2 separate regions of the Homo sapiens genome follow, and region 2 is linked to region 1. The links come from fine-mapping of genetic effects on gene expression. Tissue or cell type: tibial artery. Region 1 holds a variant in brackets; the other region holds the start of a gene. All regions are shown on one strand. Distances are between the middles of the regions.

Evidence for each region. PIP is the estimated chance that this variant, and not a neighbour inherited with it, causes the effect.
Region 2: LANCL1-AS1 starts here. The variant in region 1 is the best candidate, but not a certain one, in a credible set for the expression of LANCL1-AS1 in tibial artery (GTEx, PIP 0.77).

The regions. Positions count from the first base shown.
Region 1 is chr2:210,426,180-210,434,379 of GRCh38, forward strand. LANCL1 (LanC like glutathione S-transferase 1) reads right to left here. Exons shown (of 10, transcript NM_006055.3): 10 at 5,072-8,200. LANCL1-AS1 (LANCL1 antisense RNA 1) reads left to right here. Exons shown (of 5, transcript NR_110606.1): 2 at 3,186-3,272. Among named protein-coding and RNA genes, the nearest start is that of LANCL1, 46 kb to the right of the region's middle. RefSeq lists an enhancer at 3,143-4,342. The variant C/T (reference allele first, on the strand shown) is at 5,000.
Region 2 is chr2:210,319,943-210,328,152 of GRCh38, forward strand. It overlaps LANCL1-AS1 (LANCL1 antisense RNA 1), which reads left to right and starts at 4,770. Exons shown (of 5, transcript NR_110606.1): 1 at 4,770-4,892.

The DNA of each region.
Region 1 (8,200 bases):
ACAGCGATTAAAGTGAAAAAAAATCTCTTAGATCTTTTTAGAATTTGCTGTAACACTTCATTAATTAAATGTATTGAGGGGGAGGATTCCCAAGCTCTGGGCAAAGTTACCAGAATCCAGATTCCTTCTCGAGCTTGAACCAGCATTACACTTTTCTTGGAGTCAAAATGGGAGTTAATATAAGTGTATAAATGACAATTAATGCATTGGACAGTTTGATTGTTCATCCAAATTTTGATATTTCCCACTAACAGCATGTAAGGAAGCGTAACACAACTCTGTATGTGAACAGTCAGGTTGGAGGTAAGTGAAGTCGAACGTCTGGATCTACGTTGATACTGAGAGTGGGGGACGGTAGTGGGGACAACAGACATAATAGTTTCCCCTTCCCATACTCACAGTCTAAACATGGCAATAGCCAATTTCTAAAGTTCTGGGTGTTCTGGGCTCAGAATGGGGAGTATCATATGAGGCCTCGTGGGGGTAATGCCTTTATCTTCCCATTTTAAGGGAATGAGCTGAACCTCCTATGCAAAGTAGAATGATGATTCTCATTCTCCCGATAAGAAATAAAATAAGTAGGCTCCAGGCATTCCCTTCCACCAGAGGAGCAATTGTTTTTTAAATAGCCCTTTGGTGCCCAGTCTATTACTAAGCCATATGAGTCATTTTTTAATACTACTCCATGTGAGTTAAAACACAGTCTTCCCAAATTAAAGTTTTAGATGGGCCCTCAAAATTTTTAGGGCATGGTTTTCCTGCAGGTTTATATTGAAAGTATGGGGTATCTCTCATTACTCCACATGCACTTAGGAAAAAAAGACCATGTGGGGCGCCAGATATCAGGTGAAATTCACCCGATATTTCATGTAGGTTCTTTTTTATTTTCCTTAAGTGTCGGCCGTTCTGAGAAATAAAGGGACAGAGTACAAAAGAGAGAAATTTTAAAGCTGGGTGTCTGGGGGAGATATCACATGTCGGCAGGTTCTGTGATGCCCCCTGAGCCGTAAAACCAGCAAGTTTTTATTAGTGATTTTCAAAGAAGGAAGGAGTGTACAAATAAGGTGTAGGTCACAGAGATCACATGCTTCACAAAGTAATAAAATACCACAAGGCAAATGGAGGCAGGGTGAGATCACAAGACCACAGGACCAAGGCAAAATTAAAATTGCTAATGAAGTTTCAGGCACGCATTGTCATTGATAACATCTTATCAGGAGACAAGGTTTGAGAGCAGACAACCAGTCTGACTAAAATTTATTAGGCAGGAATTTCCTCGTCCTAATAAGCCTAGGAGTGCTACAGGAGACGGAAGCTTATTTCATCCCTTAGCTATGACTGTAAAAGACAGCCGTTCCCAAAGCGGCCATTTCAGAGGCCTCCCCTTAAGGACACATTCTCTTTCTCAAGGATGTTCCTTGCTGAGAAAAAGAATTTAGTGATATTTCTCCTATTTGCTTTTGAAAGAAGAGAAATATGGCTCTGTTCCACCTGGCTCACAGGCAGCGAGATTTTAAGGTTATCTCCCTTGTTCTCTGAACATTGCTGTTTTCTTGTTCTTTTTTCAAGGTGCCCAGATTTCATATTGTTCAAACACACATGCTCTACATACAATTTGTGCAGTTAATGCAATCATCACAAGGTCCTAGGCCGACCTACAGCCTCAGCTTACGAAGATGACAAGATTAAGAGATTAAAGTAAAGACAGGCATAAGAAATCAAAAGAGTATTGATTAAGGAAGTGGTAAGTGTCCATTAAATCTTCACAATTTATGTTCAGAGATTGCAGTAAAGACAGGTGTAAGAAATTATAAAAGTATTACTTTAAAGAACTAATAAATGTCCATGAAATGTTCACAGTTTATGTTCTTCTGCCATGGCTTCAGCCGGTCCCTCCATTCAAGGTCCCTGACTTCCTGCAACAGGGGGCAAAGGACTCTTTGTCTTCAAATTTCCCTCCACCTTGCTCATCATCAAGGTAGTCCAAATGAAAGAACTCTGAGTGCTTCTGGGCTGGCTGATTGGCTTTTAAGTTGTCTTCTTCCTATTAGAGTTCTAAACTCCATCTCCATAGATAGAAACTGCAGGCCATATGAGAGACCCAATATACATGAAGTTATGGAATAATGGGAAGAGTAGTTGGAGTGGTGATAGGATTATTATAATACATTTCCTTGCAATTGCTTATCCAGTCACCTGTCTTCACCAGACTGAGTTGCCAGAGTAGAGATGTCTACCTTATGCAAACAGATCCCCTAGCCAGTACCTTGCACATAAAGATAGCATGTTTAATGAATTTTGGGGATAAATGATTTTAAGGCATTGGTCATGGTATGATTAATAAAATGGCATATCTGCATCATAAAAACTGAAAGTGCCAGCAGTTCAGATTGCATCAGCAAGGGAGGGCATGTTTATTTCTGAATGCTGAATCCTGAGTAAACAATATCATCTTTCACAGTGAGCCACATCAGTATTTTCTGGTTTATAAATGCCTTTCTTAATATCCCAGCTCCATCAAAGAGAAATTAGGCAATTGGAACACTATTTTATAAACTGACTTATAATAAAGTCTCGTGTCTCCCTACATGACTAAGTGCCTCACAAATGCTTTGTCTAACACTTACTTGTTGAGTATTAGAACATTAGTTGCAGACTTAATGTTACCATGTTGTAATTTTCACGTGGTTGAAAAGTTAACATAATGTAGAAATGTGAAATTGAACTGGTCGACTATGAGCAGCAGCCCTGCTAAGATCCATTTCTCAATCCTCATTATTTCAGCTCTTGGCTTATTGTCTTTGCTGCCTTCTCCTATTACTCACAAAACTGCCAAATAAGTCCCTGAGGATGCACTAGCACAGGGCTTCTGGACAATAGTGTTTAGACAGTTTACATCATGGGACCAATAAAGCCAATACGTTTGTCATTGTTACAAAAAAAAGATAAAAACAAGCCTGAGTTCTCGTTTTGTTAATTGACCCACAGCTTTAGAAGGAAGAGGGCAAATTTGGATGAGAAACAATGAGAAAGCAAATTTTCAGGGAACTGACTTGTAGGTTTTCAGTTTAAATGATGCTTAATAGAATAGAGAAGACATGAGAATTTTAATAACTTTGAATCCACAGTGGGAACTATCTTGGAAAAAAAGAATGACATAAAAATTATTATTCTTTTCTATTCAGAGAGTGTGAAGAGGAGGAGAAAGGCTGAAGAGGAGGAGAAAGGCTAAGATCTTTTCCAATGCAAAATTAGGAAAAAATATACTACAGGTAAGTCACAAAAAACAAATATTTTGAAGTTTTCTTCATTCATGAGGTTACAACTGTGGTGCAACTTATTGTGCCTGTCATTATTTTTCTCATAGTAGGAGGATAAGCCAGGGAGCGGTAAACTAGAGCTGGCCTTGCCAATGGAAACTAACCTCGTAGAGTTAGCAGGACCTTTCTAAGCATCATTTTGCAATCTCTGTGTGGCCTTTGCAAGGTAGTGTCCTCTCCATGCCTCACTGCCTACATCTAGAGTCTTGATATTACCATACCTTTACTTCATTCAAATGAGAGAAATAAATGTAACTCTGCATTTATCCTCAGTATTATCAGTCACTCAATAAACAGACTTTGGGTATGAAGGACATTTTAATCATATGTACCAGCACACAAATTGTAATTTAGAGATGAAAACAAGTATTTTATAATTTATCAATCTCTGTTGTGGTAAGTCACACTAACTAGCTGTGTCATAAAAAGCAGTGGCACAAAGTCATCCCAAGTGACTCAGCAAAATTTTTCTAACCTCTGCATATATATTTTATAATTATGCCTCATTTAATCCCCCCCTTTTCTATTCAAAGCAGAATTGATCATCAGGAAAATAAATTTCTAGAATTAGGCCTTTAGTTATTAACCCCACAGTAGATTCATATATTATGAGATGGTTAATACATGTTGTTCTTGAAGGCTAGTAGATTCCTCCTAATTCTATAATGATCAGATTTAAAAATATTTTCCTCTTATAAATCTCTATTTTCAGACAGTAGTGCAAATCTTGTTTTATCCAACAATGAAGAAAAAGGAGCAAAGCCTAGGAAACAGGAGTATATATAGGGAAAAAAAACCTTCACTTGCTGTAGGGAGAACCCCCTGAAACTACTGCTACGGAATAAAAGATGAAATGCTCCTGATTATTGTAAATACAAAGTTGCATGCAGGATTGTGTAAAGACAATGCCAGGTTGGACTGCCAGTATGAGCCAACAGCATGTAATGTGCTTCCCCCTGCAGATAGCCTATGAATGGATCTGCAGTCAGGGAGGTTTCACATCATCACCAAGATTCCTATCCCAGAAAAGCAGATATTCATAGCTCTGGGAATGGAATGCGACCCTTGTGGAGAGCCTATAAATGGACGCATGGGGGGGCGCCTGTCCATATGGATAAGATAGGGCTATAAATGCCCTCATCTTGCCATGGCTCTTCTAGGCCTCTTTAGGGTTAAGGCATACTCCCTTCTGAGAATTTCTGGTCTAACCAGTTGTCTAGCTTCACGTCCTATTTCTATGGATTGTCTGTAACCAGCTTTTGCTGCAACTGTTACTGCTGATTAATATCTTGCTAATCATAGGTTATGGAAAGAATGTGTTTCTGTTTTAAGGCTCTGTTAGAAATTACTGATGCACACACTATATTGTAAATTCTTATCCCTGTATACTGTACTTCTGCATACAAATGTTATGTTAAAGCATTACTTCATCCCCACGTGACCATCTCACCTCATAATCAAATGACCCTAAATTCCTCACTAACCTACCCCTGCCCTCACTAAACTTAATAATAAATGCTGGTATATCCAGCGCATTGTTGGCACCGCAGAACCAGAAGGCGGTGACCCCCCTGGACGCGGCTTTCACTATCTTGTGTGAGTCTATTATTTCTCAACCTACCAATCTGCCTGGGAACAAAGAGAGAGCCCCGTTGCATTGCGGGCTGCTGGCCAGATCC[C/T]GCAATAACTTGCCATTGAGGGAAAATATTTCTCAAGTTTAAACCAAAGCAAACAAAAAGCACATGATGATATATAGTCCTAATAAAATTTTATTGAGAACTAGTAAGTCAAATACTTTACAGAACATAGAAATACATATGATCCCAGCCTTTCCCATTAAATGACAACATAACATTGGGGTAGTTTCCCTGAATATCCCAAACAGTTTGCTTTATAATTAGAGAAACAGTTCGTCTACAGCTCAATAGTAGAGAAAACACAGGAATGAGGTGCTCTTACTTAGCGGAAGCAGAAATGAAATTGGAATTCAGTGTAAATAATAAAGGACTACAGATGAGTTCTAGCAGCCAAAGGAGTATACATGTAAATAGTCACTCTTCACATTTTCTATTTCTAAAGTAGCTAGTAAAAGGCAGGGCATCGTAAGATCAGACAAAAATTAACCTGAGGACATAGTAGCAGAGTATGTCTCTCAATTCAGTTATTTAGGAAATGTTAATAAAGAAAGTAACCCTAGATCCACTTTTACCTAAAACTCTACCTACCATGAAGGTTTTTGATGCCAAATAATTGGAACTGACATCAAAGATGAAAAGAGAGCCACATGACTCAGGATTAAAGACTGACAACTCAGGCCACACCGCCGTCCATGGTATCTATGGAAATAGGATAATGTTAACTTTTTACATGATGAAAAGTTAACTATTTGCAATTTCTAAATTACTATAGAAACAGAAACATGTGACAGGATAAATGAACACTGCTTGATGACCTTTGACAACCTTTGAAGGTTTTATTACCTAGTCCCTGTATAGAGATAAGAGATGATGGTATTGAGTTTTCTAGGAACCAACTTCTGGGAAAGATTTTTAAAGAAGAAAAATATCTGAGAGAAAAATACAAACTAGAACTGAAACAATGATGCCACTTCCTTTTAAAACTAAGAAGCCTAGTATAAAAGTTTCTTTAGTTACTACCATGTTGTTAGGGGATTGTCTCAGCGTTGTAGGCTTTGCCTGAATTTAAAATCCCATCAAAACTTTTTTGCTCTTAAGCATAAATACAACAAATAGCATACATATAAAATTGTGCCAGTTTAGTAAGTTTTGAAAAGCTTAAAAAAAAACCAAACTCTAATTGTGTTTGTGTGGATGAATTTGCTAACTGATGACAGTAGCTAACCCATTTATGCTGGGGGTTGCAATTTTTTGTGTGAAAAATCAGACCTTGGCAATGACTTTGAGCAGTAGGATGTAAATGACTCCCACAAGCTTAGCATTCCAATAATGGAACACTAGGCATAAATGGGTTAACAAGAATCTTATTTGAAATGTTCTTCTCCCTGCCTTGAAATCTTCCTGGGGTTAAGCATTGCTATCACGATGCTTGGAGAACTGTGATCAAGTCTTCTCTGGCTCAGAGAAACTGTTATTTTTCCCTTGCTTAGTAACGCAGCTAAAAGCATAGGCACAGTAGAGTAAGACATTTAACTAAACCAAATGAGCTTTATTCTTTCAAGCTGAACACCCCAGGCAAAGGCAAATTAGCTTTGCTGTGCACTACTTTTACTTCTTACTGTAAGTGCTGATATCGCTGATTGAAAACTTTCACAAGAAAGGCAGAGCATGCACATGCTTACCAGCAGCACTTCAGCAATCTGAGAGGCACAAGGTAGTGCCAACTTACACAAGTGACAGAAGGAGGAAGCTGATCCTGGAAACTGAGCAGTGGGCTGCTTTTTAAATCCTACTGCCAGTGGCCTTTAAAAGGTCAGTTTCCAATAATATTAGCTCTTTTGGTGCTAAACAGGAGATAATAGGAGACTGCTACCTGCAGGAACCAGTACACACTCAGTGGGGATTTGGTTTGAAGTTCCAATAAAAATAGCATGTTTTTGTGACCAAGAGAGCTGTGAAATAGGCACATTTAAAATACTTAGACCCTGTTATTTTAAAGCTACAATTTTTTTTTGCAAAATCAGTTGCAAAGAGACAAAACAAGCCAGGCAAAGGCAGTAATAGAAAGAGTAGAAGCTGATGAGTCAAAACACTTGAACAGAATTTGAAGCACCAGAGAGTCTTTATCTACTACGGAAAACCTGATTCTGTGGTCTCAGAAACTGATGAATTGTTAAGTCTAGGATACGCAAAGATGCATTTGTTCTAAGCATGAACTCTGGATAATACCTCCTCAATAAAAAGCATTTCTATTAAATGCTTAGTTTAGTGTTTTTGTTCAAGTTATTGGTTAGATAGTATTCCCTTTCTCATCTCCCCTTTTTAAACAGAAGTAGAATACTGTACAATTTAGTGAAAAGACCAAAGTTCAGATAAATTGATAGGAAGGAAAATATTTTATGGCTTATACCAAAGAGTCAGCACTAATGCATAGTCACTGTAAAAACCCAAGTTAAAGTTTAGAAAGTCAGTCAGAGTGGACTGAAATCCTAGGTTAAAGCATATTCATACATAGAAAATTGGCTTCCTGATCTTATTTGAATACTGAAAAACACACATATTTAAATAAAGAGTTCCAAAAAACTCAGATTATTTTAGAGAAAACACAGACTGTTATTGTTAGCTTATCTTAAACTAACCTTCAACTCAGAATTTTCACAATGATCATCATGTTTTATAAGTTTTTGATTAAAAATGTTGGCTTCTGAAGGCTGTATGCCTTACCGACAAAAACAGGCCAATCTGAAAGTATGTTTACCTCTAGTCCAAATAGGCATCAAGAATTTAAAAAATGATATTTAGGTACCAAGTCCAGATTGTAACTCTTGGAATTTTTCTCCTGGAAGCATTTAGTTATATTTCTGTCCCCTTTCAAAATGAACCACCTAGAGAAAAGCAAGTCAGAAAATTGTCTGCCCTCCAGTTGGAGGAAAAATATTAAAGAGAAGTGAAGTGTAATACCCAATAATAGTCACATATTTATCTTTATCTGTATTGAGTTTCTTTTAAACATTTTTAGAACAGTAACAGATGGTTATATTCATAAACTTAAATAAGATTTCCTCCAAGTTCTGGAATATATGTATACAATCTCAAAACACTGTACATATCACTCACTCTCCCTTTAGGAAGAAATGGAAATTAAAGTTAAAAGACTTCCTTGGATACTTCTAAGTAAAAGTAAATGATAATGGAAGGGAACTGAATGAAAGATAAATTCTGAAAAAAGCTAACAAAATCAAG
Region 2 (8,210 bases), 110 kb before region 1:
AGTTTGTAGTATGAAATGGCTTTTTCATTTTTGTGAGTTTTTTTGATATAATGAGGTACTATATTAGGTTTAAAGGCTTGTATTAATTCACTTTGTCATAGAGCAAAATAAGAATTTAAGTGTGTGAATTAACATGTGTGTGTCTGTGTGTGCATACTTGTGTTAATAGTTATTTCTGAGTGGTAGAATTATGAGTTAATTTTATTTGCTAATCTATATTTTTATTTTTCTTCTGTGACTACACTTTGCTTATACAATAAATAAATAATAAAATAAAAAAGTTAAAAAGCCAACAATAAAGATTAAATATGAGCACAACCATATGTAAAAGCCAACTTGTCAAACCTTCAATTAAGACTCAGGATTTTTTCCCCTTACATTTACATAAATCAGTTCATGTGTGTATGATATCTACTTGAAAACTTTCCAATAGTAAGCAGTTGAAGTAAGTGGCTTTCACATTATTTAACGACACCACAGTTCCTCCTCTAGATTTGGGCCCTAAGTTGACACATCCACTATCTCCAATAATTTGCTTACCAAAGTTCTTCGGTCAGCTAAGGTTTATTTCCTCCCCTGAGCTGTCTGTAAGTCACAATCCACATTTGGTGGATGAGATCTATATAGAAACTATGTCTTCTTATTGGCTTTTTCCCCCTTAACAAATTGAGTAAAAAGTAGAGTTCATGGTTCTGAATCTCCCAAGCCCTAATAAGTAGCATTTATTAGACCACACATTTTTCCAATTTCAACTTGCCTCAAGAATCAGGCTGCATTTGTGATTGATTCAGAGAATAATTATGGAGTTCATAAAGCCCAACCTCAAAGCTAAAGCAAATAGTAGGTGGTTGAATTATTTTTCTATTAGTATATTGATTTAGTGAGATCTGGTTTACGTCTAGCTACTAGCTGTGTGACTACTGACAATTATTTTAGCTTCAGAGAGGCTTAAATACAAAATTAGAGGAATGGATAGGGTAAGATCCCAGCATCTCATTTTTACTGCAAAGTTCTATGGTTTTTGCTTTTTGAAAAGTATATTATTAGTGGCCATCTGTTGAGGGTTAACGTATTCCATGTCCTTTAATCCCCACAACAATTCTGAGGTAGGTATTATTTCACTTTATGGATAAAAAGACTCAGAGGTAAAGTTACATGCTAGTTACCCACAGTAAAAGTGTTAAAAACAAGCCAGCCGTGGTGTGCACACCCATAGTCCCAGCTACTTGAAGGGAGGCTGAGGCAAGAGGATCGCTTGAGCTTAGGAGTTGGAGGCTGCAGTGAGTCACGATTGTTCCACTGCAGTCTAGCCTGGGCAACAGAGTGAGACCCTGTCTCAAAAAACAAACAAAAACACCCATAAAACAAAAAAAAGTGTCAAAAACAGAAGTAGAACCCGGTTTTAATGAAATCTAAACCCTACTGCTTCCTAATGACTAAGGGAAGGATAATGACATGTGAAAAACAACAAGGATCACACCTCAGCTATTCAGTTGTAGTAGAATTAAATTTTGCCTTGTTAAAAAAAAATGATCCAGCCAGGCACAGTGGCTTATGCCTGTAATCCCAGCACTTTAGGAGGCCAAGGCAGGTGGATCATGAGGTCAGGAGTTTGAGACCAGCCTGGCTAACATGGTGAAACCCTGTTTCTACTAAAATATGAAAAATTAGTTGGGCGTGGTGGCAGGTGCCTGTAATCCCAGCTACTTTGGAGGCTGAGGCAGGAGAATCATTTGAACCCAGGAAGCAGAGGTTGCAGTGAGCTGAGATTGCACCATTGTACTCCATCCTGGGTGACAGGGTGAGACTCTGTCTCAAAAATAAATTTTAAAAAAAAGATCCAACTGAAGGTTATGTTTCAGAAGAAGAGGGCCTCAAAGAAGCAAAAGAATTACTGGAATGTTAGCAATGCCAAAGGCAGGGAGATCTTGGGTATACTGTAAATCACAAATTGGAAGAATGCACAATAACTGATCATAAGCCTAGCACTTATCTGAGAAAAGTTTATGTATGTCATTATTCATTAATGGAATCATCACATTTGGAACTTACAAGATGAACTCCTAACAATGGCCAACAAGGCTGGATTTGATCTAGTCTCCACCTGTCTCCCTGAACTCCTCTCAGAGTTCTCTCCACCTTTTTGGTTATATTCTGGCCATTCTGACCTTCTCTCCTAAGGGCCTGACATTGCTGTACTATTTTCTCAGAACACTTTTTCTATATATTCTTTCATGGCTACTACCTAAGATCACTTCGATTTTAATCCAGATGTTACTTTCTCTGAAAGACCTAATGGAATCATGCTATATTAAGTAACCCCTCCTCTGGTTATTACTTAGTCTAGCATCTGTTTTTATTATTCTCATGGACTTTATAATTTTTGAATTTTTATTTGTTTTCTAATACATTTAGGAAGTGAGCTTTATCAGATCAGGGACTCATCTTTCTTGTTCTCCAATGACTCTCCAGCTCCCAACTCACAGTAAGCTGAAAACATTTTTTTAATGGAATGGATGAATAAATGAATGAAAGAATGTTACGGGTTTTGGTGTTGGCAGATATACTTAAATGATTCAAGACAGTTTGGAGCCCCAAAATCTGAGCAAGAGAAAGAATTTGAATATTTGAATAGTTAGAAGAGAGAATGAGGATGAACAAAATTGACTATTAGAACCCATTCTGAAAAGTTAATGGCTTTGGCAGTACTTAGTTGAAGGAAGAAAAAGGTGGCTTAAAAGCAATTTTAATTAATAAAATGTTGCTATTAAGAGAATAGTCGTCAGCTGTTCTTTATATGAAACTAACAGGGATGAGTGAAATAATTTTCGGTTAAAAATAAATAACTTTCTAACTGGGGATTATGAGGTACTCCAAAAATATTTTAAAATGTAAACTGTTTCCTTTTAAGAATAAATGGGTGTTTAAGTGCAAACTTGATAAAGGACTGGGACTGGATAATAAAGATGATTTTTTAAAATGTTTACACTCCTTTCGTCACTAAGTTTTTAACTAGTATTGTTTCTTTAACAGTTAATAAATCCAATACTTGTGTAAGTGAAGACTGGTATTTTTCTTCTTTTGCTCTCAGAGTTACCTTGTTAGAGGTCATGATATATCCAGGGCCAAGCTGGAACCAGTGCTCCGGAATCTTGTTTTATGAAGCAGATAGTAAGTCATGTAGAAATTGAGTCAGCGTGATTCTTTACATGGTTAACATGCTGCTTCCCCTGGAGGTGGGGGTGTAGGATTTCTCAAGGAAGGACATTTATAGTGATTAAAATTGCTCAGAGATTGCTTCACTGGGTAATTCTGATGCTGTAGTATGTGATTCTGGCAAGAGAGAGGGAGTATGAAAGGGACAGAAAATCCCAGACCATGGCAAGAAAGGGCACACGATGCAGAGACTACCTCAAGAAAAGGGGCTGTGGCAGTAAGAAAACAGTAACCGAATGGTCAGACTATTGATCAGAAATCCTTCTTGGTTGCCTCCTGAGAAGGAATTGAGAGCATAAATGTCCAAGGGCAATGACTGCCCATTAACTCACCATCATCCTACAATATTTAGCATAGTTCCAAGAACAAACTGGCAAAAGAGATTTTGGCAGCTGATATTTTTCTGGGAAATTAAGTGGAAAGCACCCTCCAGGACAAAAAGGCCAAGAATAAATACTAAACATGTGCATATCTTAAAAGCCAACAATTTCACTCATAGTCATGTGTCCCCCACAAATGTGTATGTATATGCATAAAGATGTACATAGGTTGGGCACGGTGGCTCACGCCTGTAATCCCAGCACTTTGGGAGGCTGAGGTGGGTGGATCACCTGAGGTCAGGAGTTCGAGGTCAGCCTGACCAACATGGCAAAACCCTGTCTCTATTAAAAATACAAAAATTTAGCGAGGTGTGGTGGTGGGCACCTATAATCCCAGCTACTTGGGAGGCTGAGGCAGGAGAATTGCTTGAACCCGGGAGGCAGAAGTCACAGTGAGCTGAGATCACACCATTGCACTCCAGCCTGGGCAACAAGAGCAAGACTCTGTCTCAAAAAAAATGTACATAAACATTTTTAGCAATGATATTCATAATTGCACAAAACTGGAAACAACCCAAATGCCCATTAGCAATAAAATGGATAGAATATCATATATCCTTGTGATGGAACACTACACAGCAATAAGAATGAACAAACTACAGGTACATGTAATAAGATAGATCAGTGTCACACAGTGTTATGGTTCCATTTATATAAAGTTCAAGACCAAGAGAAACTACCTGATGGTATTCGAAGACAGGATAGTAGTAGAGAGGAGTGTTGGGTAGTGGAGAGGAAGGTCAGGTAGTGAAGGAGCTGGTGTTTACATGAATTTGTTGAAGGAGCTGGTGGTTACATGAATTTGTTCACTTTGTGATAATTCATCAAGTTGTACACTTAAGATTTCTGCATTTTTCCAAATGTATGTTATGCTTTAATACAAAGTTTGATAGGGAGAAGAAATAATACTGCCTTCCAAAGTAAAATGAATGACATTGGGTGGGATAAAAAAAACAGAGGGACCCTGTGTCAAGCCTGTCTTAGGGTCTTCAGACAGCATGAGTCTCGCTGTCTCCATTTTGAAGATGGGCAACAACTGCAGGGATAAGAATAGCCCATGGCTGACAGTGCATTTGCTTCTACTTGTCCTGGTCAAGGTTTTCTAATTCGGGCCCAAGAGAGTATTCATGTCTCCAGGAGGCCACCCTATGGCACGTTAGGCATTCTTGAGAGACTGGCGGCCTCAGTCCTTGTGTTTGGAGCAGTTCTGCTAGAGGAGGAAACAGCACAAAGGGCACTCTTATGCTGCTGTAAACCAGTGCCAGGATTTTTAAAATGTGAGACACCTGTTACCCTGTAAGTATTAATTTCAACTTGAGGTCTCTAGCTTTTTAATTTGCTGGATACATTCTTTTATATGAAATGTGATGGGCATTTCTGACGTGGAAGAAATTGGGACCAGTAAAGCCGGGAAGAAAGCAAAATGGGGTAGCAGGGGCCCTTTTCTCAGCTTCTAATGAAATATTTGTAGTCAAGACCAAGCACACATATTGATTCTCATCAAGTGTGAAATCGTTGGCGGCCCTGGAGGTGAGCCCCACGGGACCATTTGTACCGCACTCTTTCAAATGAACAGATTAAATCTCTCGTAAGATGCTGTTTTTGACACACTCGTACTGCATATATTAAAATCCTCCCTGGTGCCCTTTTGGCGGTTAGGATTCAGGTAGTTCCAGTGCATCACAGCCTGTGTACCAGCTGGAAAGGATATTTTTTTTTTCTTCCCTGGAATGTGTAAAGGAAGAATTATATTGCTGTTTGTTGAAAGAGACTATATGTCTCGCAAGTCCCACTTCAATAATCTTCTAGAAGCAAGAATGAATTTGGGATTGGAAAGGGCATTACAACATGGCTAAATAAATAGCAAGGGGTCTCTCAACACCTGGTTAGCCTGCAATGTTACAATATGACTTCTAGGTCTTACATTTCAGTCTCTTTCTTCAGCAAACAGAGTCTGAAAGGTCTTACACAAAGACAGAATTTTAAGTCTGAACACTCAAGAAATGTGGTCTTCACACTCTAAAGCTGTCACTAATTCCTTGAGAAGCACCAGAAACTTTCTGACTAAACCTTTTTATGTCTTCAATAATGGTTAAATCCAATATACCTTAGGGTTTCCCTCAGATTTAGTCTTCATATTCTTTAGCTTTTGCTAAAGAATTTTAGCAAAATTTCTTATTTTGCATTTCTCTAGCTTCATGACTGGGCTGTCATCATAGGTATATAAGACCATGTACAGGGCTGTGCATTAATATTGCAAGTCTGGAAATTCCAGATATCTTGGCAAAGGGAGAAACAACTTGTGGTTGGAGCTTGGAGGATGAGGAACCAACAAGTTCTGAGTCCTCATGTCTTATGCTTAGGCTGATTCCATTTCTTCCCTCAAATTGTAAATATTTATTTAGGTGTAAAGGAGAGGGCCTATCTAAAGCAGACTGGTGTGTGAGTAGAGTTATTTTCATAGTGTGTCCTCTCCCAGTGATTTATGTTTCCTAGAATATTGATGAAAAATGGATGAGCTCCCGCAACATCTCCTGCCACTCTCCCCCTCACATATTGGACTACAGACATTCTGGCCTTCTTCAGTTCATTCTTTAGTATGATATGCTGTTCTTTCTTCCTGAATTGTTCTTCTAATCTTTCTTTGAATGAATGTTTTTATTCCCTTTCAAGTCTTACCTTAGAAGTAAGTCCTCTCTTCAGAAGGGTCTTACTTATCACCCTATCTAAAGTAGGTTCCACTCCTCTCATCCCATATTGCAATACTTCATTTGGTGGACTCATAGCTTATAATAATTGAATCATTTATTGATTATTGTCCTCACTTAGACTATAAATTCCATGAGACAGTGCTCATGGTTATATTGTTTACTGAATTGATTCTACCTAAGTGTCTATCAACAGAGAAATGGATGTTTGGATAGTGCTATTGTCCTATTGCCATTGTGACAAGGGCTCAGATAAACATGCAAGTGCACATATTCATGTACTGATTTCTTTTTCCTTTGGATAAATACTCAGAAGTAGGATTGCTGGATTGTATGGTAGTTCTATTTTTTGGTTTTTAAAGAAATCGTCATACTATTTTTCATAGTGGTTGTACTAATTTACCTTCCCATCAACAGTGTTTAAGAGTTTCCTTTTCTCTGCATTCTCACCAGAATCTGATATTTTTCATCTTTTTAATGACAGCCATTCTAACTGGAGTAAGATGATATCTCATTGTGGTTTCCATTTGCATTTCTCTGATGCATAGTGATGTTGGGTATTTTTTCATATACCATTTGTATATGGCCATTTGTGTGCCTTACTTTCAGAAATATCTGTTCATATCCTTTGCCCACTTTTTAATATGATTATTTGTGGGGTTTTTTTTGGTTGTTGAATTGTTTGAGTTCCTTGATATTCTGGATATTAATGCCTTGTTGGATGAATAGCTTACAAATATTTTCTCCCATTTTACAGGTTGTCTTTTCACTCTCTTGGTTGTTTCTTTTGATATGCAGAAGCTTTTTGGTTTAATATGCTACCATTTGTCTATTTTAGTTTTTGTTGCCTGTGATTTTGAGGTCTTAGGTGTAAGATCTTTGCCCGGACCAATGTACTGAAGAGTTTTCCCTCTGTTTTCTTCTAGTAGTTTTATAGTTTTAAGTGTTTAAGTCTATAATGTACCTTGAATTAATATGTGATGTAGTGAAGATAGGGGCTTAGATAGAAGATACCTATATTCTTCTGCATGTAGATATCCAAATTTCCCATCACCATTAATTGAAGATACTGTCATTTCCCCAATGGATGTTCTTGGCACATTTGTCAAAAATCAGTAGGCTGTAAATACATGGATTTATTTCTGGATTCTCTATTTTTTTTTTTCTTTCCTGAGAGAGAGTCTTGCTCTGTTGCCCAGGCTGGAGTACAGAGGCAAATCTCAGCTCACTGCAACCTTCGTCTCATAGGTTTAAGCGATTCTCCTGCCTCTCCCTCCTGAGTAGCTGGGATTACAGGTGCATACCACCATGCCTGGCTAATTTTTTGTATTTTTAGTAGAGACGGGTTTTTGCCACGTTGGCCAGACTGAGCTCAAACTCCTGGCCTTAAGTGATCTGCCTGCCTCGGGTTCCCAAAGTTCTGGGATTACAGGCATGAGCCATCGCACCTGGCCTGGATTCTCCATTCTATTCCATTAGTCTATGTAACTGTTTTTATACTAATACTATGCTGTTTTAGTTAAAGTCTTGTAATATATATTAAAATCAGGTAAGGTGATGCCCCTAGCTTTGTTCTTTTTGTTCATGTTGCTTTGGTTTTTGGGCTCTTACTTGGCCCCATGAAAATTTTAGGATTGTTTTTTCTAATTCTGTGAAAAATGACATTGGTATTTTGATAGGGATTCCATTGAAACTGTTGATTGCTTTGGGCAGCATGGCCATTTTAACAATATTAATTCTTCTGATCCATGAGCATGAAATGTATTTCCATTTTTTTGTGTTCTCTTCAATTTATTTCACCAGTACTTTATAGTTTTCCTTGTACAGGTCTTTTATCTTAGTTAAATTTATTCCTAGGTATTTCATTATCTTCTTGTAGCTATTATAAGTGGTATTGCATTCTTAA